7 linked regions of the Homo sapiens genome follow. The protein of the gene in region 3 purifies or fractionates together with the protein of the main gene of each other region. This does not show direct contact. Each region holds a gene or a part of one and is shown on either strand. Other genes may lie near its edges. The genes, in order: PMPCB, TRABD, COQ8A, EIF3L, RBM34, ESYT1 and RAB7A.

What was found.
Region 1: the proteins of COQ8A (region 3) and PMPCB purify together in Homo sapiens (affinity purification with mass spectrometry; 2 studies listed by BioGRID and IntAct, with this or other methods). This does not show direct contact.
Region 2: the proteins of COQ8A (region 3) and TRABD purify together in Homo sapiens (affinity purification with mass spectrometry; one large-scale study listed by BioGRID and IntAct). This does not show direct contact.
Region 4: the proteins of COQ8A (region 3) and EIF3L purify together in Homo sapiens (affinity purification with mass spectrometry; one large-scale study listed by BioGRID and IntAct). This does not show direct contact.
Region 5: the proteins of COQ8A (region 3) and RBM34 purify together in Homo sapiens (affinity purification with mass spectrometry; one large-scale study listed by BioGRID and IntAct). This does not show direct contact.
Region 6: the proteins of COQ8A (region 3) and ESYT1 purify together in Homo sapiens (affinity purification with mass spectrometry; one large-scale study listed by BioGRID and IntAct). This does not show direct contact.
Region 7: the proteins of COQ8A (region 3) and RAB7A purify together in Homo sapiens (affinity purification with mass spectrometry; one large-scale study listed by BioGRID and IntAct). This does not show direct contact.

What each region holds. Positions count from the first base shown.
Region 1 is NC_000007.14:103,307,435-103,310,934, reverse strand, and holds part of PMPCB (mitochondrial-processing peptidase subunit beta isoform 1 precursor), read right to left. Parts: intron 3,340-3,500; coding exon 3,227-3,339; intron 1,984-3,226; coding exon 1,840-1,983; intron 621-1,839; coding exon 460-620; intron 1-459. UniProt on the Homo sapiens protein: Catalytic subunit of the essential mitochondrial processing protease (MPP), which cleaves the mitochondrial sequence off newly imported precursors proteins. Preferentially, cleaves after an arginine at position P2.
Region 2 is NC_000022.11:50,192,413-50,195,912, forward strand, and holds part of TRABD (traB domain-containing protein), read left to right. Parts: intron 1-614; 5' UTR 615-648; coding exon 649-681; intron 682-1,163; coding exon 1,164-1,242; intron 1,243-1,927; coding exon 1,928-2,094; intron 2,095-2,487; coding exon 2,488-2,628; intron 2,629-3,500.
Region 3 is NC_000001.11:226,981,794-226,985,293, forward strand, and holds part of COQ8A (atypical kinase COQ8A, mitochondrial), read left to right. Parts: intron 1-233; coding exon 234-356; intron 357-884; coding exon 885-970; intron 971-1,100; coding exon 1,101-1,241; intron 1,242-1,758; coding exon 1,759-1,840; intron 1,841-1,967; coding exon 1,968-2,061; intron 2,062-2,300; coding exon 2,301-2,442; intron 2,443-2,754; coding exon 2,755-2,862; intron 2,863-3,082; coding exon 3,083-3,148; intron 3,149-3,460; coding exon 3,461-3,500. UniProt on the Homo sapiens protein: Atypical kinase involved in the biosynthesis of coenzyme Q, also named ubiquinone, an essential lipid-soluble electron transporter for aerobic cellular respiration.
Region 4 is NC_000022.11:37,852,419-37,855,918, forward strand, and holds part of EIF3L (eukaryotic translation initiation factor 3 subunit L), read left to right. Parts: intron 1-3,146; coding exon 3,147-3,226; intron 3,227-3,500. UniProt on the Homo sapiens protein: Component of the eukaryotic translation initiation factor 3 (eIF-3) complex, which is required for several steps in the initiation of protein synthesis.
Region 5 is NC_000001.11:235,144,251-235,147,750, reverse strand, and holds part of RBM34 (RNA-binding protein 34), read left to right. Parts: intron 1-3,500.
Region 6 is NC_000012.12:56,141,721-56,145,174, reverse strand, and holds the end of ESYT1 (extended synaptotagmin-1), read right to left. Parts: intron 2,891-3,454; coding exon 2,750-2,890; intron 2,598-2,749; coding exon 2,443-2,597; intron 2,341-2,442; coding exon 2,242-2,340; intron 2,159-2,241; coding exon 2,027-2,158; exon of another isoform or gene 1,948-2,026; coding exon 1,842-1,947; exon of another isoform or gene 1,650-1,841; intron 1,596-1,649; coding exon 1,546-1,595; intron 1,353-1,545; coding exon 1,313-1,352; 3' UTR 501-1,312; downstream 1-500. UniProt on the Homo sapiens protein: Binds calcium (via the C2 domains) and translocates to sites of contact between the endoplasmic reticulum and the cell membrane in response to increased cytosolic calcium levels.
Region 7 is NC_000003.12:128,809,683-128,813,182, forward strand, and holds part of RAB7A (ras-related protein Rab-7a), read left to right. Parts: intron 1-3,500.

The sequences.
Region 1 (3,500 bases), on a different chromosome or scaffold from region 3:
AGGGTGGATCTCCTGAGGTCAGGAGTTCAGGACTAGCCTGGTCAACATGGTGAAACCCCATCTCTACTAAAAAATACAAAAAATTAGCCAGGCATCGTGGGCATGGTGGTGCGCCTGTAATCCCAGCTATTCGGGAGGCTGAGGTGGGAGAATGGCTTGAACCTGGGAGGCGGAGGCTGCAGTGAGCCGAGATGGCACAACTACACTCCAGCCTGGGCAACAGAGCAAGACCTCATCTCAAAAAAAAAAAAAAAAAAAAATTCTATAGTATAAATCAGCTTCACATCTTGAGACTTAGGAAAAACCAACTGCAACCTTTGAAAACATGGCAACTACTGTTTATCTAGGTCTCTTAATTAAAAGGTAAAATTACCATAAATCACCATAAAGTATAAATAAAAAACTAGTTTAAAACGAATTAAAGGCAAAATTTAAATTACTTAAAGCTATTTTTCTCACCATTCTTTTTGAACAACATGTAGCATGTCTGCAACAGTGGATGATTCACAAACCATATACAGTCCCCATAATCCTGTATCTGTGTAGGAAGTGTTGAAAGACTGAAAGCTATGGCAAAGATTGCCATGACAAGTGAGCTGGGCCAGCTTGCTAGATAAATTCTGCAAGGAAAAAAAAATTCCAAGAGAATTTTAATTATACATGTCCAAAATACAGAAAGAAAAATGGAGTGTGTGGAAAATAGTGAATATCCTTAGAGGCTGTTTCCTAGTTTTATTCAACATCTCAGTAGTAGAGTTAAAATTCAGTATGACTAAGAATTGTGTTTATTATCTCACTTACCCAGTGCACCCCCTGGAGAAATTCATGTTATAAAAGCAATGAGTCCTTATAATTAATGTAGTAGCTATACCTACTTCTAAAACTAGATGGCTATTATCAACCCAATTTCTAGGACTCTTGGCTACATACGCTTAAAGATTCAAAGTTATATTGCATATGAAGCTTAAGATTATTTAGATGAAATGTATTTTGGAGAAATCTATGAGTAAAGACAAATCTATACAATGTGTTTTGAAATAATTCCAACTTACAAAAAAGTTGCAAAAACAGTACAGAGAATTTCATTTATCTAGATTCCCTGTTATTTTACCATGTTTGCTTTATTCTCTTTATACAAGTTTTTTCAACTGAGTTTTAGATGTGATGCTTCTTGCCCCAAATACTTTAGTATGTACTTGTGAAAAACAAGGAAATTAATGTTCTTACATCACCTTGGTATAGTTCCTCAGTATCTGTGGAGAATTGGTTCCCAGATCCCTGTGGATACCAAAATCCACAGATGCTAGAGCCCTCATGTAATATGGTATATGTAATATTTGCATATAAGCACATTCTCCTGTATACTTTAAATCATCTCTAGATAAATACCCAATCCATGTAAATGCTATGTAAATAGTTGTTATACTATATTGTTTAGGAAGTGACCAAAAAAAAAGTCCATACATGTTTAGTACAGATGCAACCATCCATTTGTTCCCCAAAATTTTCCACCTATGGTTGGTTGAATCCACGGATATGGAACCCACAGATATAGAGGGCCTACTGACTATTAAAATTAGGATATTAACATTGACATAGTACTTCTAGCTAATTCTGTCCTTATTCAAATTTTGCCACTAATAAACTTTGTGGCAAAGAAAAAAAGAAACTTTTTCTGGCCCACATGCAATCCAGGATCAGTTTATATTTTTAAGTCAGAATTCACAGTACAAGACTCTATTCTGCCACTTTAAAAAAGGATTCTTACAAAGAACTTATATTTAAGAAAACATGATAATCTTCCATCTGTTATGGAAAATTTCTTTTAAAATCACTTACCATTCCTCCCCCAAAAGAGCGATCCCAGTTGCCAATCAGCGTGTTTGCAACCATGAGACAGATTGTATCTGGATGTGCCCAACCAACAGCTTCAACAGCTATTGCAAGGTGCGCCAAAGGCATCTTGTCATCCCTCACACGAATCTAGTTAAGATAAAGCAGGAGGACCTCTAGTTAAGATTAACATTATATAACATGCTTATTAACAAGGAAAAAATCACCAGTCCCATTAACTGCAAAGTTAAAATGCACACCAGGACTCTATTTTGATTTTTTAACTATCAGGCCTCATTACATTGTTGAGTTTAATCTAGAAGAATTAAGACTAAATTAGGGAAAAATTACTTTTCCCAAAGCATTTTACTACAGACAGGCACCACATGGTTTACCTGGTCAAAAGGGTTGCATCATTTCACTGGTAGAAATCAATCCTTTGTGTTTGTCAATCTGAATTTGTCTTTTTCTTTCTTTTTTTTTGAGACAGAGTCTCACTCTGTCGCCCAGCCTGGAGTGCAGTGGCACCATCTCGGCTCACCGCAACCTCGGCCTCCCATGTTCAAGCAATTTTGCCTCAGCCTCCCGAGTAGCTGGGACTACAGGCATGCACCACCACGCCCAGCTAATTTTTGTATTTTTAGTAGAGACGGAGTTTCACCATGTTGGTGAGGCTGGTCTCAAACTCCTAACCTCAAGTGACACACTCGCCTCAGCCTCTCCAAGTGCTGGGATTACAGGCGTAAGCCACCGCACCCGGCCTCAATCTGAACTTTTCTATTGAAATGTCATATTGACGTTACAGGTTTATTTTTGTACTGCCAATGCTACAGTTCTAGGCAGCTGCCAATATCAGGGCATTTTCCAGATACTACTTTGAGCATCATCCTCAACATGGCAAACTAAGCAGCTAGTGGGGCTTAAAGCTAGTTGATAACTAGTAGATCCCCTGCAAGTTCTGGCTCTAACAGTTACTACCCCCTCCCAAAACATACTGTGGGCAAAACTGAGCCAAGAGTAAACCTGAAGTGAAAGTCAAAATACGGGGTTTAAAAGATTACTTCCAGATATTACAATATGTAAATTGGCATAGTGCCAAAGAAAAAGCACAAAAAGACCAAATTATAAACTGCTCTTAAAAACTTTGCTTCCTTTCAGACTAGAATGGAGAAATTTAAAAACAAAACAAAAAAAACCTTGCTTCCTTAGGAAGAAAAATAGGTGGTTAAAGAATACGGAAGAGGAAGGAATGTAAGCAAATGAGTACATCCTCTTCCCTTTTCCTATTATTCCATTCTTTTCCTACTGGAAATATGCACATTTTGTTTACTTATGTGTAAATACAACACAAGGAATCCAAAAGGCTAAATACTAGCTGGAAGGCTTGCCCTACCTCACTTCCTGTGAATTTGCAGGGAGGCAGAGCTGGTATTTCTCCTTTGTGTGTGCATAAAGAGTCACCGAAATGAAACTTTGCTAAGTCAAGCAATTCATCATGGGAAACACCTAAATTGAAAGAAAATATTTTCACATGTATCTAGCAGCAATATAGTTTACAATAAACCCTAGGTGGTATAATGTGATGTACATTACACATGAACTATCTACACTCACTAAAAGCCATTATTTAAGAGTAAGCTCACATAGCACACCTATTTCCTTGGTGT
Region 2 (3,500 bases), on a different chromosome or scaffold from region 3:
CCCCCTCGTGTGGCTGCCCCAGCCTGTCCGGGTTTCTACCGTGGTTCCTTCCACACCATGTTTGTCTCTTAAAGTGGGAGAGAAGGTCTTAGGTCCAAACACGTTGATTTGTGTGCTTTGTGGATTCCTCCGTCTGTACTGACTCTGTGCCGGTGTTGTTGCCCAGGCTGTAGTTACTGAAAGGGGAAGTGGCTTTTGTACAAAGGCCCTGGGGTCCTTGCCATGTGTCAGCAGCTGCGTTGCTGTGTCCTGAGATCATGTGTGGACCCCAGGGCTGCCTTCCTATGTGTGCCCGCCGTGCCGCAGTGAGGGTTGGGCAGCTCTGGCCCTGTTCTGAGTGAGGCCTGTGCACCAGCAACCCGCCCTGGGCCCGTCTGCGTTTGGTTTATGCTGGGGTGTCTGGGGACCTGCTGGCCTTTCCCCACCCGGGCCTGACCTGAACCGACCCTGGACCTCAGCAGCCTTTGATGGGCAGGAGGCATTTGGGGATATGGGGGAAGGAGCCCCCAGGCCCACCCAACAGATGGTTCTAGACTGACAGGGCACTACGCAGTGAGTCCTGAGCCAGGTCTGGGGCTCCAGGTGGAAACCCCGCCTCTCATGCCTCTCCTCAGGCTCCCCACAGGTGCAGGAAGCCGCCGCCCAGCCATGGACGGGGAGGAGCAGCAGCCACCGCACGAGGTGAGGTGGAGGCTGGGCTGGCTGCACAGAGACAGGGGCGGGGGGCTTCCCCGCTTTGTGGGCTCTCGGGGTCGGTCCCTGGCTGTTGTTCTGCAAAGGTGATCTTCACAGGGTTCTCCAGGGTCAGGCAGGAGGCACCTCCGAGGGAGAGGGGCGCTGGGCTGAGGTGGCCTGGTGGCCCTGTCTGCCCAGCTTGATGGCAGCCGTGCCAGTGATGGCCAAGCAGGAGGGGTACTGACAGTGTGGGGCCTAGGCTCTACGGAGGCCCTGCTTTTCAGGGTGTGTGGTACACAGAGCGGCCACGGGTCCCTTTCCCGGGTACGTGGTCCGTGGAGCGGTCACGGGCCCTCGTTTTTCAGGGTGTGTGGTCCACACAGCGGCCACGGGTCCCTTTCCAGGGTACGTGGTCCGTGGAGTTGCCACGGAGCCCTGGCTTTCTGGGGTGCATGGACCCTGACTTGAACTCTCCTTTCCACCTGCAGGCCAACGTGGAACCTGTTGTGCCGTCAGAGGCTTCAGAGCCGGTGCCCAGGGTGCTTTCTGGAGACCCCCAGAACCTGTGTACGTGTCCCTCAGGGTCCTGGCACGTTCCCCGGTGTTGGGCTGTTGAGTCAGGGAGGAGGGGGAGGCAGCCAACCACTGCCAGGGGCTTGGAGCTTGTGGTGAGCAGGGGCCCTGGCCGAGACCTGAGGTAGGTGCTGCTAGGCCTGGTGCCACCCAACAGCAGCTGCTCCTGGGCCCTGCCTGGCAGTGGAGCCTCTTGGAGGGGCTGCAAGCAGCACAGGCAGGCCCCTGGGCATGGGGGGCTCGTGAGCACAAGCAGTGTGAGCGGCACGGGAGTCCCTCCTTGCTGTGGCCTCAGCCTGTCCCTCCTGAGTGGGGTGGGGGGGCCCATTTCGCCTCAGAGCCCCTCCCCTAGCTGAGCCCCCTGCGGCACCTGCCCCCACTGTCCCCCACACCGAACCTCATCCACAGCAACCCCCAAGGTCGCCCTCATGGGGTGTATGGGGCACAGGACTCCTGAGGCCCTGGCTTCTCGAAGCCGTGCAGCTCACAGAGGTGGTAGCCGGTGTTCCCATCACTGGGCAGGCAAAGCCTGTGGAGTGTGACGCTCGTCAGGAGTCTTGTGCTCTGCACCTGTTCAGTTCTCAGAACCCAGGAGGGTTCTAGAGCCCAGGCTGCCAGCGGGCCCGGCGGCGTCCTTGGGGTGGGCCCGGCACCACAACGGCCTGTGCTGCTGTTGCAGCCGACGTGGACGCCTTCAACCTGCTCCTGGAGATGAAGCTGAAGCGGCGGCGTCAGCGGCCCAACCTGCCGCGCACTGTGACCCAGTTGGTGGCTGAGGACGGGAGCAGGGTGTACGTGGTGGGGACAGCCCACTTCAGCGACGACAGCAAGAGGGACGTTGTGAAGGTGAGCGCCGCCACCCGCCACATCCCGGACACGGGTTGGTGTAAGCTCCTGTGTCCTGCACTCAGGGACCTCCCGGCAGGGCCCGTGTGCCCGTGTGTGCGCACCGCAGGCCTCCTGCTTCAACACTGTGGTCCCTGGGAGTGGCAAGGTGGGCTTCCTGCCTGGGAGCCGTGACGGCCTTGTGCGTTTTCCCACTTAACAAGTGAACAAGCCTCACAGCTTCCTCTCTCGTCGCTTAGAGAATTGAGCTGTCACTGCAGCAGCGGGGTTAGCTAGCCCTGGGGTGACGCCAAGGCTGGCTGCTCCTGGGATGGGGCCCCTGGTGCTGGCGTCAGCTGTGCTGAGGGGCAGGGAGCGGCTGTGTTCTCGAGGTGTGACCTGTGGCTGTTGCAGACCATCCGGGAGGTGCAGCCTGACGTGGTGGTCGTGGAGCTCTGCCAATATCGTGTGTCCATGCTGAAGATGGACGAGAGCACGCTGCTGCGGGAGGCCCAGGAGCTCAGCCTGGAGAAGCTGCAGCAGGCCGTGAGGCAGGTGCGCAGCCGCGGGCAAGGGTCAGGGTCAGGGTCGGGGTCAAAGCCACCTGTTTGCCTGTTGCCCAGGTTCCTCTCACAGCCCATGCCCCCAGTCAGTGTGGCTGTGCCTGGCCTGCCCTGGGGATTGCCGGGTTAGGGACCTCCCCTGGGCCAGGAGAAATGAAAGAGGCTCCATTACCCGGTTTCAGGCAAGGGAGGAGGAAATGGGTGGCTCTCCAAGCTGAGGCAGGGGCTGGTCACCCGAGGACTGGGTTGCTGAGCAGTTGCTGGGGATGGGTCAGGTCTCAGTGCAAGGTTGGCCCCCCCGGTACCACACCCAGGCCCAAAGTGGGTGGGGCTCAGGGCTCCTCCTGTCCCCACTTCTCCAGCCTTGCAGTGACCGGAGAGGCAGGACTTTCTCATTGCTCTTTGTGTTTTCGGTTTTTGTTTTTTTTTTTTGAGACAGAGTCTCGCTCTGTTGCCCAGGCTGGAGTGCAGTGGTGCGATCTTGGCTCACTGCAACCTTCGCCTCCTGGGTTCTAGTGATGCTCCCGCCTCAGCCTCCTGAGTAGCTGGGATTACAGGTGCCTGCCACCACACCTGGCTAATTTTTTGTATTTTTAGTAGAGACGGGGTTTCACCATGTTGCCCAGGTTCATCTCAAACTCCTGAGCTCAGGCAATCCACCCACCTCAGCCTCCCAAAGTGCTGGGAATACAGGCATGAGCCACCGCGCCCGGCCAGGCTTTGTGTTTTCAAAGGGGGCCCAGCACGCCTGACCCCAGCCCTGGTCAGTTTGCCTTCCCCCTGTTCAAAGGAAACAATTATAATGAGATCTTATAGAAATGTCCCTAAACGTTTGGCGCCTGCCTTTCATTTTTTAATTTCTCC
Region 3 (3,500 bases):
ATATGTACGTGTGCATGCCTGTGTGTATTGGGAGGCGCTGGCGTAGGGCCTGGGCATGTGGCTCACACAGGCTTGGGGAGGTGGACATGGAACAGTAGTTAGTTATGTTGCTGGTTTTATGGACGCCTGGGAGGAAGGACATTGTCTGAGCCTCCGTCTGTATCAGGTGGGGCTTGCCATCCCACTCCCAGACCCCCCCGAGTGCCGTGGTGACCCCTCTTGCCCGCCCACAGGGAAGAAGGCCGTGCTGGGTTCCAGTCCTTTCCTGTCCGAGGCCAATGCAGAGCGGATCGTGCGCACGCTCTGCAAGGTGCGTGGTGCGGCACTCAAGCTGGGCCAGATGCTGAGCATCCAGGGTGAGTGGGCGCGGGGGCTGCTGCCCCGGGACTGCGTGGGCTGCTGGGGGGGTCAACTTCCAGGGCCGGGAGCAGTGGCCCCACCAAAGCTCAGTGGGCAAGATGTGAGCAGGCTGGGGAGAGATCTTAGAAGATAATAGGCCTGGTCTCCAGACGGGTGGCTCTGGGTCCAAAGAAACACATGGAATAAAGAGCAGAGAGGAAAAATTGCTCTCTACAGGTGGTCAGAACACAGGTCATTTCAACATTTTACTATGTTTTATTTTCCAAATTTCTTTTGTAATTATGAAAAACTCTGCATGTTGAGTGTAAAAAGCCCACCTTCTCAGGTCACTGGGCGGAGGCTGGGGCTCCCGGGAAGCTGAGTGGCCGAGGGCGTGTGTGCGAGGGCTCCTGTCTTTCTGGCCTCACCCGTGCTCCTGGTGGGGAGGGTGTGGTGGCCAGGGCATCCCAGGAGTGTGCCCGCCCAGGTCCTGGGCGCACACTTTAATCCCCAGGTTCGCCCTGTGTCATTCTCCTGCCTTCCAGATGATGCCTTTATCAACCCCCACCTGGCTAAGATCTTCGAGCGGGTGCGGCAGAGCGCGGACTTCATGCCACTGAAGCAGATGATGGTGAGGAGCCAGGGGCTCTGCCCACTCTCTGTGGCCTCGGCCCCCACTGGGTGGAGGGGACAGACTTGGGGCTTCTCCCGGTGGCCCAGGCAGGGCATGCTCAGAGCCCCTCCCTGGCCCTGCCCTTCAGAAAACTCTCAACAACGACCTGGGCCCCAACTGGCGGGACAAGTTGGAATACTTCGAGGAGCGGCCCTTCGCCGCCGCATCCATTGGGCAGGTGCACTTGGCCCGAATGAAGGGCGGCCGCGAGGTGGCCATGAAGATCCAGGTAGGCGGCCTGATGCGCAGTGCCTGTCCCTATGGGGGCTGCAAGGGGCAGAGCTGGGGCCTGGCTCATGGAGGCCTCTACACCCCACGTCCCGCAGGGCACCCTCTCTCCTGGCAGGGCCATATGTGGTGTCTTCTGGCCCCAGTGCCTGGACGGCACCAGAAGCTTGGGAAGTATTTGCTAAATGAGTGACTTTGGGGGCACAGAGGGGCCCCCAGCAAGCTTGATTTGGGGTGGGCAAGGACAGGGGACAAGTGATTGCTTTTTGGGGCCAGAGCTGGTGGGAGGGTGGCCGTGAGCTGTTCCCAGGGGTGAGGTGAGGCAGGAGTAGGTGGACAACGAGGCTGTGATGGGGTCCAGGTCACGGCAGCATGGCTGGGTCTTAGCTCTGGTTCTCCAGGGTGTGGGCTGGGGCCAGGACACAGCTGGGAAGCCAGTTGGGGGTTGGGGGAGTGCCCCAGGCAGGGCCCACCCGTCTCCCTGGGCTAACTCCCCTGCCTCACCCATACCCCCACAGTACCCTGGCGTGGCCCAGAGCATCAACAGTGATGTCAACAACCTCATGGCCGTGTTGAACATGAGCAACATGCTTCCAGAAGGTCTGAGGCTAGGTGGTTGGGTCAAGGGCAGGAGTGGGTGGCAGGCATCTGTGTTGGGTTCTGGGGACCAGAGGGGGTCCTCCCTGCAGAGCCCCCTTCCTCGCTGATGCCCTCCTCCCTGGCCCAGGCCTGTTCCCCGAGCACCTGATCGACGTGCTGAGGCGGGAGCTGGCCCTGGAGTGTGACTACCAGCGAGAGGCCGCCTGTGCCCGCAAGTTCAGGTGTGGCCCCCGGCCGGGCCCCTTGCGTGTTTGCACCAGGGAGGCAGAAGGGACCATGTTCAGCAGCTGGTGAAGGCCCCTCCAGCTCTGAGGGGCAGAGGGCTGGGGTTGCAGCCTGGGCCGAGGCCATATCCTGCCTGGGGTGAAGGAGGGCCCTCTGCCTGGTTGGGGGGTGTGTGTGGGGGGGGGGACGGTGTGGAGGGCCTGTGGCTAGGGCGTGACCTCCCTCCCCTACCCAGGGACCTGCTGAAGGGCCACCCCTTCTTCTATGTGCCTGAGATTGTGGATGAGCTCTGCAGCCCACATGTGCTGACCACAGAGCTGGTGTCTGGCTTCCCCCTGGACCAGGCCGAAGGGCTCAGCCAGGAGATTCGGAACGAGGTTTGTCTGTGCCAGCAGACAGGTGGGGCCAGGGTGGCCCTGCTGTGTGGCTGTTTGGTGACCTAATAGTGTGAGCTGGGGACTTGGAGCCCTGAGGTGCTCCCTGGGGGTGAGGGGCAGTGAAGTAGCACCAGTGGGACTTAGGGGGACACAGGGGAGCTGCTGCCTTCCCTGGCCCAAGTAACACTGGGAATCAAACAGTCCCTAGGGTAGGGTGGGTAAAACAGGAGGCAGGGGCTTCTCTGGCCCCAGTCTCCCAGGGCACCAGGCAGTGTGGTGCTGCCTGACACAGACCCTTCGCGCTGTCCACAGATCTGCTACAACATCCTGGTTCTGTGCCTGAGGGAGCTGTTCGAGTTCCACTTCATGCAAACAGACCCCAACTGGTCCAACTTCTTCTATGACCCCCAGCAGCACAAGGTGAGCCCCAGGGTGGGGGCACCCGCAGCCAGGCCTGAGAGCTTCTCCGAATGGGGCACGTGAGGCCCTGGACTGCCCCTTGTCCTGGGAAAGTCAGCAGAGAGCTCAGGGCTCTGGGAGTGGGGATCCTCACTGCCCTCTGTTGCACCCCCTTCCCGGCCCCACACACCCGCACCATGGAGCACCAGGGCCAAACTTCTCCTGGTGTCTCTGTCCCCAGGTGGCTCTTTTGGATTTTGGGGCAACGCGGGAATATGACAGATCCTTCACCGACCTCTACATTCAGGTAACTGGAGAGGGGCCCTGGCCTTGGTCCATGTTTTTCTGAGGCTGGGACAGGATGCTGGGGGACTCGGGGTAGGGAGAATGACTGGGTTCCTGCCCTTGTGTCCCCATCTGCGCTGCCTGCCCCTCAGGTCTGGTGACAGCAGGCAGTTAGGCTGACAGCTGCCAGGCGTGGTGTCACAGCACTGGCCGGGGGCCCTGTGCAGGGAGAGGATGAGGGTGGGGTGGGCTCGGGTGTGGCACTTGGCTCCCTGGGATGTCGGGAGCTGAGCTTTTCATGCTGCCCACGGTCCCCTCCTGTGCCTCTCCCCAGATCATCAGGGCTGCTGCCGACAGGGACAGGGAGACTGTGC
Region 4 (3,500 bases), on a different chromosome or scaffold from region 3:
TCAGAGCAAGCTGAACTCCGCAGGTTTTGAGGGGCTGCCGTTGTGTAATGAGCGTTAGAGATAAGATAGGTCAGTCAAAGCTGGGATAGTCAGGAGTGACTTCACCAAGGAAATAGAATTTAAGCAAGTCAGAAGGATGAGGGAGAGAAAACAAATAGCCAAAGGCCTATTGATCAATGAATAGGATCTCTGACATGTGTTTTCTTTTTTTGTTGTTTTGAAAGAGCTGATTGTAGTTGAAAAGCAGAGGAAACCTCAGACATTGCATGGTTTTAGGCCTCACCCCTGCCACTCTCGTGAGCCTAAGTTCTACTTGGTGTGGACTCCAAGGTCCTTCCCGCCCCTGCAAGCCACCCATTAGGTTGAGCTGAGAGATCAGCCAATGGGAACAGAGTCACTTATGACCAAGAAGAATTGATCTGGGGGTTAGTTAGTGAGGAGAGAGAAAGGGAGAAAACCTTGTTCGGAGGTTGAACACCTCCAGCCGAAGAAGGTGCAGCATCGAGGTCTTTCACCACTAGCAAATGGATCCAAGTCATGCGGCACCAAAAGAGGTTAGCAGCTGAAGGGTGTTGAAGTGACACAACACCAAAACATGCTACCAATGATGAATCCGTATCTGTACAGGTCTCCAGCAGCCTCAGTTCTTGCCTCCTCAAAAGAAAGAATTCGACTGAGGGGTAAAATGCTACCGATGATGAGTCCGTATCTGTACAGGTCTACAGCAGCCTCAGTTCTTGCCTCCTCACAAGAAAGAATTACACTGAGGGCTAAAATGCTACTGATGATGAGTCTGTATCTGTACGGGTCGACAGCATCCTCAGTTCTTGACTCCTAACAAGAAAGAATTCGACTGAGGGGCACAAGGCAGAAGAAGAGAGGGAGGCAAGTTTGAGAGCAGGAGTGAAAGTTTATTAAAAAGCTTTAGAACAGGAATGAAAGAAAGGAAAGGACAGTTGGAAGAGGGCCAGGTGGGTGACCTGAAAGGCAAGTGTGCTGAACTGTGTTTTCTTTATTCCCCGGGTCTTTTCTGATTAGAAGTATATAAATCAGCGCCTACAAAAATTAGCTGGGGCATGGTGGCAGCATGCCTATAGTCCCAGCTAGTTGGGAGGCTGAGGTGGGAGGATCACTTGAGCCTGGGAGGTTGAGGCTGCAGTGAGCTGCACAATGGAGCGAGACCCTCTCTCAAAATTAAAAAATGGACCTGATGTTCAATAGAAATGTAGCTAGACATTAATTTTAATTTTTCAGCCAAGCGAAGTGGAGATTTATTTAAAATATTATTTCTATATGTAATCAGTATTTAAAAATTAAGGGGATATTTGCCCTTTTTTTTCTTTATACTTAAAGTTTCCTAAATCCAGTGTGTATCAGAAATACTTGCTTTGTGTTTAGATTTTATAGAGTTTATGACTGGAAAAGTAATTCAAATTTGAAATTTGAATCTTCAAATAGTAGAGTAATTCCAAATAGACCTAAAAGTTTTCCAATACTGAGTTAAGTGTTGGTTTTTAAACTTAAATGGCAACTAACTGAAATTTAAAATTTAACTCTTTGCTTATATAGTAGCCACATGTAGCTAGTGGCTATTGCATTGGGCAGTGCCCGCAGATACAGATGACAGTTGAAGCCAAGCATCTTGTAAGTCTTTCTCTAGGAGAATGTGAGAAGAAATGCTGGTGCCTTAAGAAGTATGTTTCTTTAGGGATGGGTGGGCAGGCAAAGAAAGGATCTAGTAAAGGAGGCAGAAAGAAAAGTGAAAAGTAGATAGTAAATTGGCAAAGAAATGTCACAGGAACCAAAAAGTCTGCAGAAGAAACTGAGGAAGAGAGTATCACCAAATGTTTTAGTGAGGTCCAGATGAGAAAAAAAGCCAGTTGAATTTGGTAACTTGGAGGGCCTTGATAACCTTAGCAAGGTCAATGTCAGTAGAGTGATGGAAGCAACAGCCAGAGAGCAGTGGGGTGAGAAAGGGGAATTGGTAAGTATCGGGGACATAAAGGGTCACTGAGTGGCTTTGTGTTTTGTTTCTGTGTTTTTTCTGTTTTTGTTTTTTGTTTTTTGAGACAGGATTTCGCTCTTGTTGCCCAGGCTAGAGTGCAATGGCGCAATCTCAGCTCATCGCAACCTCCGCCTCCTGGCTCCAAGCGATTCTCCTGCCTCAGCTTCCCAAGTAGTTGGGATTATAGGTGTGCACCACCATGCCTGGCTAATTTTGTATTTTTAGTGGAGACGGGGTTTCACCGTGTTGGTCAGGCTGGTCTGGAACTCCTAACCTCAAGTGATCCACCCGCCTCAGCCTCCCAAAGTGTTGAGATTACGGGTGTGAGCCAGCGCGCCTGGCCTGTTTCAGTGTTTCTTTTCTGTTCTGTTTCTGTGTTTCTCCCCAACCCCCATCCCGTAGAGACAGGGCCTTCCTATATTGTCCAGGCTTGTCTTGAATTCCTGGGTTCAAGCGATACCCCTATCTTGTCCTCCCAAAGTGTTGAGATTACAGGCGTGAGCCATCATGCCTGGCCTGTTCAGTGTTTTTTAGGGGAACTTGAGCATGTTTATATGTTGGACTAAAAGAGCCAGAGAAGCAGGAGGGGTGGGGCTTGAGGAGATTGGAGGAAAGTATTAATAGCTGCTGAGGGCATCAGGAGAAGAAAATTAAACAACCTGTTGCAGGTTTGTCAAGTAGCAGTGTTTGGATTGGATAGGCAGCAGTGTTTAAATTGGATGCTGTAGGTCTGTTGTGGCCTTGGACTGCAGCAGACTGATTTGCTTCTGTGTTTAGAGACGTTTGGATGTGCTCCAGGAGATGGAAACGCTGTGTTAAAGAATGGTGGCCAAAAAAGTAGTTCTTATAGCAGAAAACAGCAAGCAGTTAAATATGGCTATAGTTAATGATACAGAGGCAGGAGATTATCCTGAAAAGCTTGATGGGTCCCTAACTGATACAAAAACAATATTTTCTTGTGTTGAGAAAGATTGAAGTGTGGAGTTGGGTTGAGGACAGTTGTGGGCTTGAAGGGCTTTGGCCTCAGCTCTGTTTATTTGACATCTTCCCCTTTCTAAGCCTGGGTCCTCATCTGTAAAATGTTAGGATTGGCATTCTCCAGTCCTTTTGGAATTTTAGAGATTTTTTTCTTGATTTTTAGCTGGACCAAGCTGACTGAAAGATTCTTCAAGAATACACCTTGGCCCGAGGCTGAAGCCATTGCTCCACAGGTTGGCAATGGTAGGTGTGAGCTCTTTATATCTTGTGCACTGAGTGGAATCCAGTGGCTGAGTCATTAGACAGGAAGCTCAAGAGGGTCTGTGTCTGTTTTGCTCACCATTTTGTTTCCTTGGTGCTTGGTATGTAGTAGGTCCTTGGCAAAATAACTTGTCGAAGGCTGGATGATTTAAGAGAGGACAGAGATCTCTCATATATGGTGAAATTTAGATCTTTGTACTGACTTGTTTCTATTTCCTTCTATAATTTGGGGGTCATTACAGTCACTCTGGAATAA
Region 5 (3,500 bases), 8.2 Mb from region 3:
TATAATAATGTACTTTAGAAACATTTCTGGGAATCCTGTTCTATCAAGCTTTTGTATGGCAACAGTCCCTTTGGACATCTTGGTGACTTCATTTCAATATTGAGTCTTCATTTGGAGTTATTTGGCCGACCAGGTCTTCGCCGGTTTTTCCTCATAACCATCACAGTGCCAGGTGTATAGTTAAGAGTTGATAAATATATAGATTCCCACAGTGTTTGCTGAGGTAACCAAAGATGCAGATCCTCCTAGATACCAGGCATTGTTCAGTGCTGTGGTGACTAGAAACCTTAGTAAGATACAACCCTTCTTTTTGAGTCATACTTTTATTTCTGTATGAAGTTGAAACCCAGGAGCCTAAATTTGAACAGAAACAGAGGTTCTGACAGGTGTATGTACAAGTACTACTGAGGAGTTTAGTGGGATATGTTAGAAAATTGGAATTTTCACACCATACCGTCAGCTTCTCCTCCAGCCCCATCTCATTGTTTTTTTGTTTCTTTGTTTTGTTTTGTGTTTTTAACATACAAGCTCTTGCTCTGTCACCCAGGCTGGAGTGCAGTGGCAAGATCTTGGCTCACTGTAGCCTTAAACTTTTGGGCTCAAGTGATGCTTCCATCTCAGTGTCCCCAGTAGCTGGGACTACAGGTGTGCACACCACCCTGGCTAATTTATTTTATTTTATTGTAGACACAGAGTCTCATTATGTTTTTCAGGCTGGTCTTGAACCCCGGGCTTCAAGCAATCCTTCTGCCTCAGCCTTCTAAAGCAGTGGGATTATGAGCATGAGCCACTGCCTTTTTGTTGTTGTTTTTAATTTAAAATTTAATGATGGCTGGCTGTGGTGGCTCACACCTGTAATCCCAGCACTTTGGGAGGCCGAGGTAGGTGGATCACTTCAGGCCAGGAGTTTGAGACCAGCCTGGCCAACATGGCAAAACACTGTCCCTACTAAAAATAGAAAAATTAGCAGGGTGTGGTGGCACATGCCTGTAGTCCCAGCTACTTGGGAGGCTGAGGCAAGAGAATCGCTTGATCCCAGGAGATGAAGGTTGCAGTGAGCCCAGATCACGCCATTGCACTCCAGCCTTGGTGACAGAGCTAGACTCTGTCTCAAAATAAATAAATAAATAAAATTTAATTATACACCTTTTCTCTAGTCAGCCAATTCCCTACCCTAGGCAAGTGTTTTTAGTTTCTTATGTAAGCTTCTAGAGACATCTTAGCATTTAAAAACTGATACGCATAGATGTTCTTCTTCCCACATAAAACAGTTTAACTCACTGGTATTTAATATATGCACTACTCCACACCTTCCCTTTTTCTGCTTAGTACAACTTGGAGATCTGTTTATATTGGTGTGAAAGTGATTATTTTTATAGCATTTTTTAAAAATGCCCTTTTTCTTAGAGTATTCTCTAGGTGTGCCTTAATTTATTTTATCAAATCTCCCACTGATGGACATAAAGTTTTTTCCCAGTCTCATGACCATTACAAATAATGCTGAAGGCCGGGTGCAGTGGCTCACGCCTGTAATCTCAGCACCATTAGAGGCCAAGGTGGGCAGATCGCTTGAGCCCAGGACCTCCCTGGGCAAAATGGCAAAACCCCATCTCTACAAAAAATTAGCTGGGCATGATGCTGTGCACTGTAGTCCCAGCTGCTTGGGAATCAGACGAAGGAGCACCTGAGCTCAGGAAGTGGAGCTATGATTGCACCCCTGGCACTCCAGCCCGGGTGATAGAGTGAGACCCTGTCTTCCAAAAAAAAAAAAAAAAAAAAAAAAACCTGCTGTAATATTTTAGCTGGTCATGGAGGCACGTGTCTGTAGTCCCAGCTACTTGGGAAGCTGACGTGAGATGATCACTTGAGCCCAGGAGCTTGAGGCTTCAGTGAACTGTGATCACACCACTGCACTGTAGCCTGAGCGACAAGCAAGACCCGCTCTCTCAAAACAAAACAAATAATGTTGGAGTAAATGAGTGACCTTGTACTTAGGTAATTTTGTACATAAGCTAAACTTATCTGTAGGATAAACTTCTAGCAGTGGCATTGCTCAGTCAGAAGGGTATTTGCATTCACAATTTTGACTGCTGTCTCGTAGAGATTGCAACCTATTTATGTTCCCACATCTTTACCAACAGTAAAGTCTTTTACTTTACAAAAACAGTATGTTGGCCAGGGAAGATGGCTCATGCCTGCAATCCCAGCACTTTGGGATGCTGAGGTGGGTGGATTGCATGAGCCTAGGAGTTCGAGACCAGCCTGGGCAGCGTGGCGAGACCTCATCTCTACAAAGAAACAAAAAAATTAGCTGGGCAAGGTGGTGCACGCCTGTAGTCCAGCTACTCTGGGGGCTGAGGTGGGAGGATCACTTGAGCCCGGAGAATGGAGGCTGCAGTGAACCATGATTGCACCACTACGCTCCAGCCTGGATGACAGTGAGACCCTATCTCAAAAAAAAAAAAAAAAGTATGTTTTTGAGCTTTGTGGTTGTTGGAAACCTGAGTGTGGTATTTCTAATTTGAATTTCTCTTATGAGTGAGCATCTTGTCATGTAATTTAAGAGTCATTTGTGCTTTCTTTTATTTGAATTATTAGTCTTATTGATCTGTGGGATGTTCATGAAATCAGTCTTTTGTGACATGAATTATGAATATTTTTCTCTATTTGTCATTTGCTATTTGTTTATTTATTTAATTTATTTTTTGAGACGGAGTTTTGCTCTTGTTGCCCAGGCTGGAGTGCAATGGCGTGATCTCAGCTCACCGTAATCTCCGCCTCCCTGGTTCAAGTGATTCTCCTGCCTCAGCCTACTGAGTAGCTGGGATTACAGGCATGTGCGCTACACCTGGCTAATTTTGTATTTTTAGTAGAGACGGGGTTTCCCCATGTTGGTCAGGCTGGTCTCAAACTCATGACCTCAGGTGATCTGCCCCACCCTCGGCCTCCCAAAGTGCTGGGATTACAGGCATGAGCCACCGCGCTGGGCCTTATTTTATTTTTAAGAGATAGAGTGTTGCTTTGTTCTCCAGCAGAAGTGCAGTGACTCAGTCATAGTCCACTATAGCCTGGAATTCCTAGGCTCAAGTAATCATTCTGCCTCAGCCTCCCAAGTAGCTGGAACTACAGGTGCACACCACCACACCCTAGCTTGTTGGCTTTTTGACTTGGCTTATGGGAAATTTTGCCATGTAAAACTTTTTTCCTTTTTCTTATAGCCAAAATGTTTAAAACCTTTTTTTTTTTTTTTTAGTTTATTAAGGCTACTTCCAGTAAACTGCACATATTTGACATGTACAATTTTATAATTTTAACATATGTAGGCAATCTTGAAACCACTGCCATAGTCCAGATACCAAACACTTTATCATCTCGAGTTTCTTCTAACCCTCTGCAATATGTCCCTCCACCTCTGTCCTCAGGCAGCCATTCATTTGCTTTCTGTCTCTATGTGTTAGTTTGCTTTTTCCAGAATTTTATATAAGTAGAGTCATCATACA
Region 6 (3,454 bases), on a different chromosome or scaffold from region 3:
TAGCTTGCATTCCAGGAAAGTTCTTGCAAGGAGCAGAGTTCAAGGTGTACAGATGATCGAAATGGGTGTATTTCTCAGCTCCTGCTAGATGGGCCTGAAGCCCTTTTGAATGTAGCTGAGCATGCCCTGACAGCACAGAGACACCAGGAGCCTGTGCAGTGGCACAGAGACACCAGGAGCCTGTGCAGTGGCACAGAGCTCCCAGGTTTACCAGGTTTAGGAATCCCTTCCCTGGAAAGCCTATAGTGGTCAGCAGACAAGTTGGATGGGTAACAGAGTTCATCACTGTGACTGGAAATGAGTCTCACCTGAAATGCAACAGCAGCTACTTTACACAGGTCTCTTGACCATCCTCAACATTCTTGGTGGCTGCAACCTTAGTAGGCTTTGACCATTAATTAAACTGACATGATTCACGAATTGGATAAAGGCTTTTGACAGTAGGAATAAACATCAGATGGGTAGATTGATTCCCTATCCTTAAGGAAAAGAACCACAGCTGGTTTGAGTATGATGTTTAATGTAAGATCCAGTGGCTTGGCAGAGTTGGTGCAAAACTGTAAAGTACCAGATTAAGTTCTAGTCAGTGAGTTAGCAGCCTAGGCACTTGGGCAAAAAAATTGGCCCTGCTGTCCCAAGTCCTCCAAAGCCCTCTCCGTATCACCAGCTAGGAGCTCCAAGACTGATATGCCACTACTTGGAGGCTTGAGTAGAATCCACGCGTCCTCAGTTTCCAAAGTGACAAGAGACTGGCCCCAGCCATCAAAGCAGTAGAATTTTCAGGACAGGGTTGAGGACAGTGGGGACAGAACTGGACATGGGGGCCTGAGCTGCTGAACATTTGCTACATGCAGTAGTCTAAGAGGCTCACAGCTGGAGAGGTTAGCCTGTCCACCTTCCCACCCATGTGTGGTAGGGAAGAAGGTGACCATCTAGTTAAAGAAAAAAAGATCCTTCCAAAGCTGTATTTGGCATAAGCTAATACCACTGCTAGTGCTGCCACTGGCCAGGCACAGATACAGAAGGCCCTGAGGAGTTGGGAGGAAGGGAGAACAATGTGCAGGCAAAGCAGGAAACAGCCAGCTCAGGTCCCCGCCCCAGGGGCCCAGAAGGATAAAGGCCGTGCAGTAAAGGGAACATACGGTTCTTCTCTTTGGTCAGGCAAAGGCCCGAATATGGGCCTGTTAGGTGAAAGGGCTGAAGGGCACAGGCTCTGCCCTTGGACCCTAGCTTTAGGCTCATCACATTGAGGCGGTGATGGAGCGAGACGAAGGCAGGAAGACAGAGCAGTCAGGCTGGGACTCGCCAGCTCCTAGGAGCTGCCCTTGTCCTTGTTGTCCATCAGGTCATACCTGTGAAAAGAGGGCTCATGTAGAAAGATGACTCTTGTGTCATCATATTTATAAATGAGACACGATCCAAGGGCTTCTCTACTTGATAGAATCAATGGTTCTCTGCTCAGATTGTATCTTTTTTTCCTTTCCTGTGATTGGAATTTCTCCCACTGAAATATCCAGACCATCCCCCACCCACGCAGACACTCACCACCGGGCTACACCCTGGGAAAGGTCTGTCTCAGCTAGGTCCAGCTGCACCTGTGTTGGAAGATGATAGGGGAAAGATGTTATTTCTTTTATTTTTTGAGACAGGATCTCATTCTGATGATGCTGTTTTGAAATCTCCAAAGACCATGTTCCTTCATCACATACTCGTCCCAAACCATTGCAGAGGTGAGTCACCTCTAAAGGATCACGTGGGGTACTTCCTTCCTCACAGGGACTATAACCTTGGTGCCAGCAGCTTCCAGCCCTCACCTCTGCCCTGCCATCCTGCCCTCTTACCTTCCCCAGCAGCTCACGCTCTCTTGACATGAAGGAGGAATTAGACTTGACAGAGACATCCAGCTTTCGTCTCTGGGCCTCATCCAGGGGGAGTTCCCACTCAAACCTGGGGTAGGACTGGATGTTAGGGGCCAGGAGTCCTTTCCAAGCCTGCCATCTCTCCACCTGAATGCCCACTGACTGACCGTTCATTAAATTCAGGACTCAGGGTCCTCTTCTTCTGTGAGGTCCTCCTCTTGGTGCCTCGGTTCTTGTCTGGCAGTAGCAACAGTGACACATAGGGATCAGGAGGATCACGTCCATTCTGTCGAAGGGACCTACAACAGGAGGATGTAGGTGATATGGTAACCTGAGGGAAGGGATGGAGGCGATCTGGAGGACAGGAGGGATGGGGTCTCACCGGCAACCATGAACAATGCTGACCAGCTTTCGTTCTTCACTGTAGTACCACAGAGTCAGTTTCACCTGGCCCAGAGGCCCGGCTGGAGCCTCAAGGGGACTGTGGAGAAATATCAGTAGGTCTGGGGAAAGCTAGAGCCTAGTGAACCTGTAATACTTTTTATTTCTGACTGCGTCCCACCTTCCTGTCCCAGCCCTTTACCTGTCAACATGTGTTAGGCGCTGCCGGAGCTCTGGGGCTGAGGAGGTGATGTGAGGGGGTCCCCCCGAGAGCTCTGGTTCTTCACTCAGCGATGAGGAGCTGTGGCTGTAGCTGTGGCTATGAGCTTCCACTCCCGAGTGCTGGGACACCAGGATCTAGGGGCAAGAAAGCTGTGAGCTGGGCAGAGTTCTCTCAGTTCCCTCACTCTAAGGACACGGCCCTCTGTTCCCACCCTCCTGGGTGTCCCTCACCTGTGAAGGCCCTCCCCTCCTCCCTCTCATCCTGCCCACCATCTCCTGTCACTCACCCCTAGCTGTGCTCTCAGTAGCACCTGCCCCTGACCACTGCTGAGTGTAAACCAGCGGTCCAAGCAGAGCTGGTCAGCCACGAGGAGCTCTGAGAGGGGCAGGGATAATGAGCCCAGCACGCCAGTGCCCTCACCCCGAACCTGTGGGGCAACAGGACCATGATCAAGAGGCGAATGCATCAACAAATGAGTTAATCCTGGTGTTTTAAAGGTCCAAACGCTTGGACTCATAGGTGGTTTGGTGAGATTTCCCTTTGAGAAAGGCAGGGAAGCCATGGTAACAGTTGCTAGTCCCTCCCTCTGTCCTTCCTTCCTTTTTTTTTTTTTTGAGACAGAGTTTCGCTCTTGTTGCCCAGGCTGGAGTGCATGGCGTGATCTGGTCTCACCGCAACCTCCGCCTCCCAGGTTCAAGCGATTCTCCTGCCTCAACCTCCTGAGTAGCTGGGATTACAGGCACCTGCCACCACGCCCAGCCAATTTTGTATTTTTAGTAGAGCTGGGGTTTCTCCATGTTGGTCAGGCTGGTCTCAAACTCCCAACCTCAGGTGATCCACCCACCTCAGCCTCCCAAATTGCTAGGATTACAGGTGTGAGCCACTGTGTCTGGCCTGTCCTTCCTTTCTTAACCAGAGTAGAGTGGACCATCTTTACCTCATAAACTTTCAGAAATTATTATTATTATTTTTGAGACGGAGTCTCGCTCTG
Region 7 (3,500 bases), on a different chromosome or scaffold from region 3:
TTTTGGCTTATGGCAGAAAAGAGAGACTTGCCTTTCCTCTCAAGAGAGCTCAGCCAGTTGTTTGAAATCATTCAGCTATGTTACACAAGCCGTTTCCCTCCCTGAATAGACCGTGGCCTGTGCTAAATGCTCGTATGTGCTGGGATCTGTTTCTGGTCTCTCCAGTCTGTTCTGGTGATGTCCATGCCATGTTCCCTTATCTGGACTGTGTTGATTTGACTGCCTGATGAGGCAAGTTTCCTCTTGCCACAGTCTTTTTTTTTTTTTTTTTTTTTTTTTTTTTTGAGACGGAGTCTTGCTCTGTTCCCCAGGCTGGAATGCAATGGCGTGATCTCGGCTCACTGCAACCTCCGCCTCCCAGGTTCAAGCGGTTCTCCTGCCTCAGCCTCCTGAGTAGCTGGGATTACAGGCATCCGCCACCATGCCCAGCTAATTTTGGTAATTTTTTAGTAAAGATAGGGTTTCACCATGTTGGCCAGGCTGGTCTGGAACTCACATTGTGAACCGCCCGCCTCAGCCTCCCAAAGTGCTGGGGTTACAGGCATGAGCCACCGCACCCGGCCTGCCACATTTCTTTTTTAATAATTTTGTTTCCACCATTTTCCTCTCTTACCTTCCACACCCCAAATAAAACTCTGTTGAGATTTTGATTGGAATTTTTTTCTTCAAGCCCACTGTTTTTTCCTCATTGATTGCAGTTTTGTTGTGGCTGTTGCATTAGTCTGCTCAGGCTGCGTTAACAAAACCCCACAGCCTGGGAGGGTCCAACAACAGACATTTTGTTTTCTCACAGTTCTGGAGGCTGGAAGTCCATGAGCAAGGTGCTGGCACATGTTTCTGGTGAGGGTGCTTTTCTGGGCTATCTTCTCACTGTGTCCCTCCCATGCCCTTTCTGCTGTGTGCACAGAGAGAGGACACATGAGCAAGGTGTCTCTGGTGTCACCTCTTCTTATAAGGACACGAATTCTCAGATCAGGTCCCCATCCTGCAACCTCATTTAACCTTCATTCCTTCCTTACTCCAAATACAGCCACCTGAAGGGTTAGTGCTTCAACACAGGAATTTTGGAGGAACACAAACATTCTGCCCAGCCGAGTGCGGTGGCTCATGCCTGTAATCCCAGCACTTCGGGAGGCTGAGGCGGGTGGATCACCTTAGGTCAGGAGTTCAAGACCAGCCTGGCCAACATTGTGAAACCCCATCTCTACTAAAAATACAAAAAATTAGCTGGCGTGGTGGTGGGCACCTGTAATCCCAGCTACTTAGGATGCTGAGGCAGGAGAATTGCTTGAACCTGGGAGGTGGAGGTTGCAGTGAGCCGAGATTGCACCATTGCACTCCAGCCTGGGCAACAAGAGCGAAACTCCATCTCAAAAAAAAAAACAAAACATTCCACCCATGATACTATTTTAGGTCTTGTTTCTGTTCCTTCAGTAAGATTGATTGATTCTTTTTTTTTTTAGAGACAGGGTCTTGCTCTGTCAGTCAGGCTGATACGCAGTGGTGCAATCATCACTCGCTATAACCTCCAACTTCTGGGCTCCAGCAGTCTTCCCACCATAGCCTCCTAAGTAGGTAGGACTACAGGCACACCCATGCTATAATTGATTTATAATATGATCCTTTGCCTTTCACAGTAAACATATTCCTAGGTACTGGTGGGAATATAAAATGTCACTATTTGTAATAGCCAAAAAGTAAGAACAACTCAAATGTCCATCAACTGGTAAGTGAATAAACAGGGCAGCTTATCCATGCATTCTAATATTATTCAGCTATAAGAAGGAATGAAGTAGTGACACATGCTGCCACATGGGTGCTAAGTGAAGGAAGCCAGTTGCAAAAAGACCATATGTTGTACGATTCCATTTCAGTGAAATGTCCAGCCCGGATGCAGTGGCTCATGCCTAAAATCACAGCACTTTGGGAGGCTGAGGCCGGAGGATCACTTGAAACCAGGAGTTTGAGACCATCTTGGGCAACATAGCAAGGCCTCATCTCTACTAAAAATTAAAAATTAGCTAGGTGTGGTGGCATGAGCTTATAGTTCCAGCTACTTGGGAGGCTGAGACTGGAGGATTGTGTGAGCCCAGGAGTTAGAGGCTGCAGTGAGCTGTGATCATGCCATTGCACTCCAGCCTGGGCGACAGAGCAAGACTCTGCCTCAAAAAAAAAAAAAGAAAGAAATCACAGTCCACTAGAAGAAATGGGGAAAATTAAAATAAATAAATAATGTTTAAAAATTAAGTGTCCAGAATAATAGGCAACTCTATTGAGACAGAAAGTAGATGAGTGGTTGCTGGGTCCAGGATGGTATAGAATGGGGGTGGGAAGGAACTACTAATGGGCATAGGGTTTTTTGGGGGGTGATGAGAGTATTTTAAACTTAATGTTGATGGCTGCCCAACTTTCTGAATATACTAAAAACCATTGAATTGTACACTTCATGGCATGTGAGTTAAAACCCAGCAAAGCTATTAGGAGTGCAATGGCACCATCTTGGCTCACTGCAACCTTGACCTCCCGGGTTCAAGCAATTCTCCTGCCTCAGCCTCCTGAGTAGCTGGGATTATAGGTGCTTGTCACCATGCCTGGCTAATTTCTGTATTTTTAGTAGAGACGGGGTTTCACCATGTTCGCCAGGCTGGTCTTGAACTCCTGACTTCAGGTGGTCGACCTGCTTCAGCCTCCCAAAGTGCTGGGATTACAGGCGTGAGCCACCATGCTCAGCCAAAGCTGTTATTTTTTTAAGTATGTATTCCTAGATGTTTTATACTTTTATAGTTATTGTGAATGGAATGATTTTTTTCCTAGATAACTTTTAATGAATAGAAACAGTTCCTGCTTTATCTCCAAATTCTAGAACAGTCACTGGCACACAAGTGCTCAGTGTTTAAGTGACATTGTTTTCCTGCACCCAAAAGTAGAATGCTGCTCCTCATTGGAAGCATGTTACTTTAGCAAAGTGCCACTAAAATGACCATAGTCCATGTGCTCTGATCACTTGTCACAGATGGTGATAAAATTCATTCACAGCTTCCTTTCTAGGCCTGCAGCATTTGGGAGACAAAACTCTGCTAAACCTTTGGAAGAAAAAAGAGACCAGAGGCCATTGGTCCCGAAAAGTGGATGGAAGATAGGGAGGTAGAAGGAATGTTACAGGCTGAGAGGGCAGCTCACACTCAGCTCCAGCCACTTCACCTCGTGCACACACTGGCTGAGGGTTGCCAGATGTTTGAGAAAAGCTAGAAATCCAGACCATTGTTAACCATTGGCAACTATAGGGAACATACAGAAAGCATCTGAACTGGATGTGGTAGAGCTCCCAGATCATGATCTGATTGAGAATGTCCATGAACTTCTGTCCTGATTGCTCAGTGCAGACTGCTGCTTCTTCTGGCAAGACTCCTCTCTTCACATTGACCTGGAGTTGTCACAAAATCTGTTTTTCTCTTGCTACTCCCCTGAGCATGGCACCTTCTGCCAGAGCGCTCCCTTAA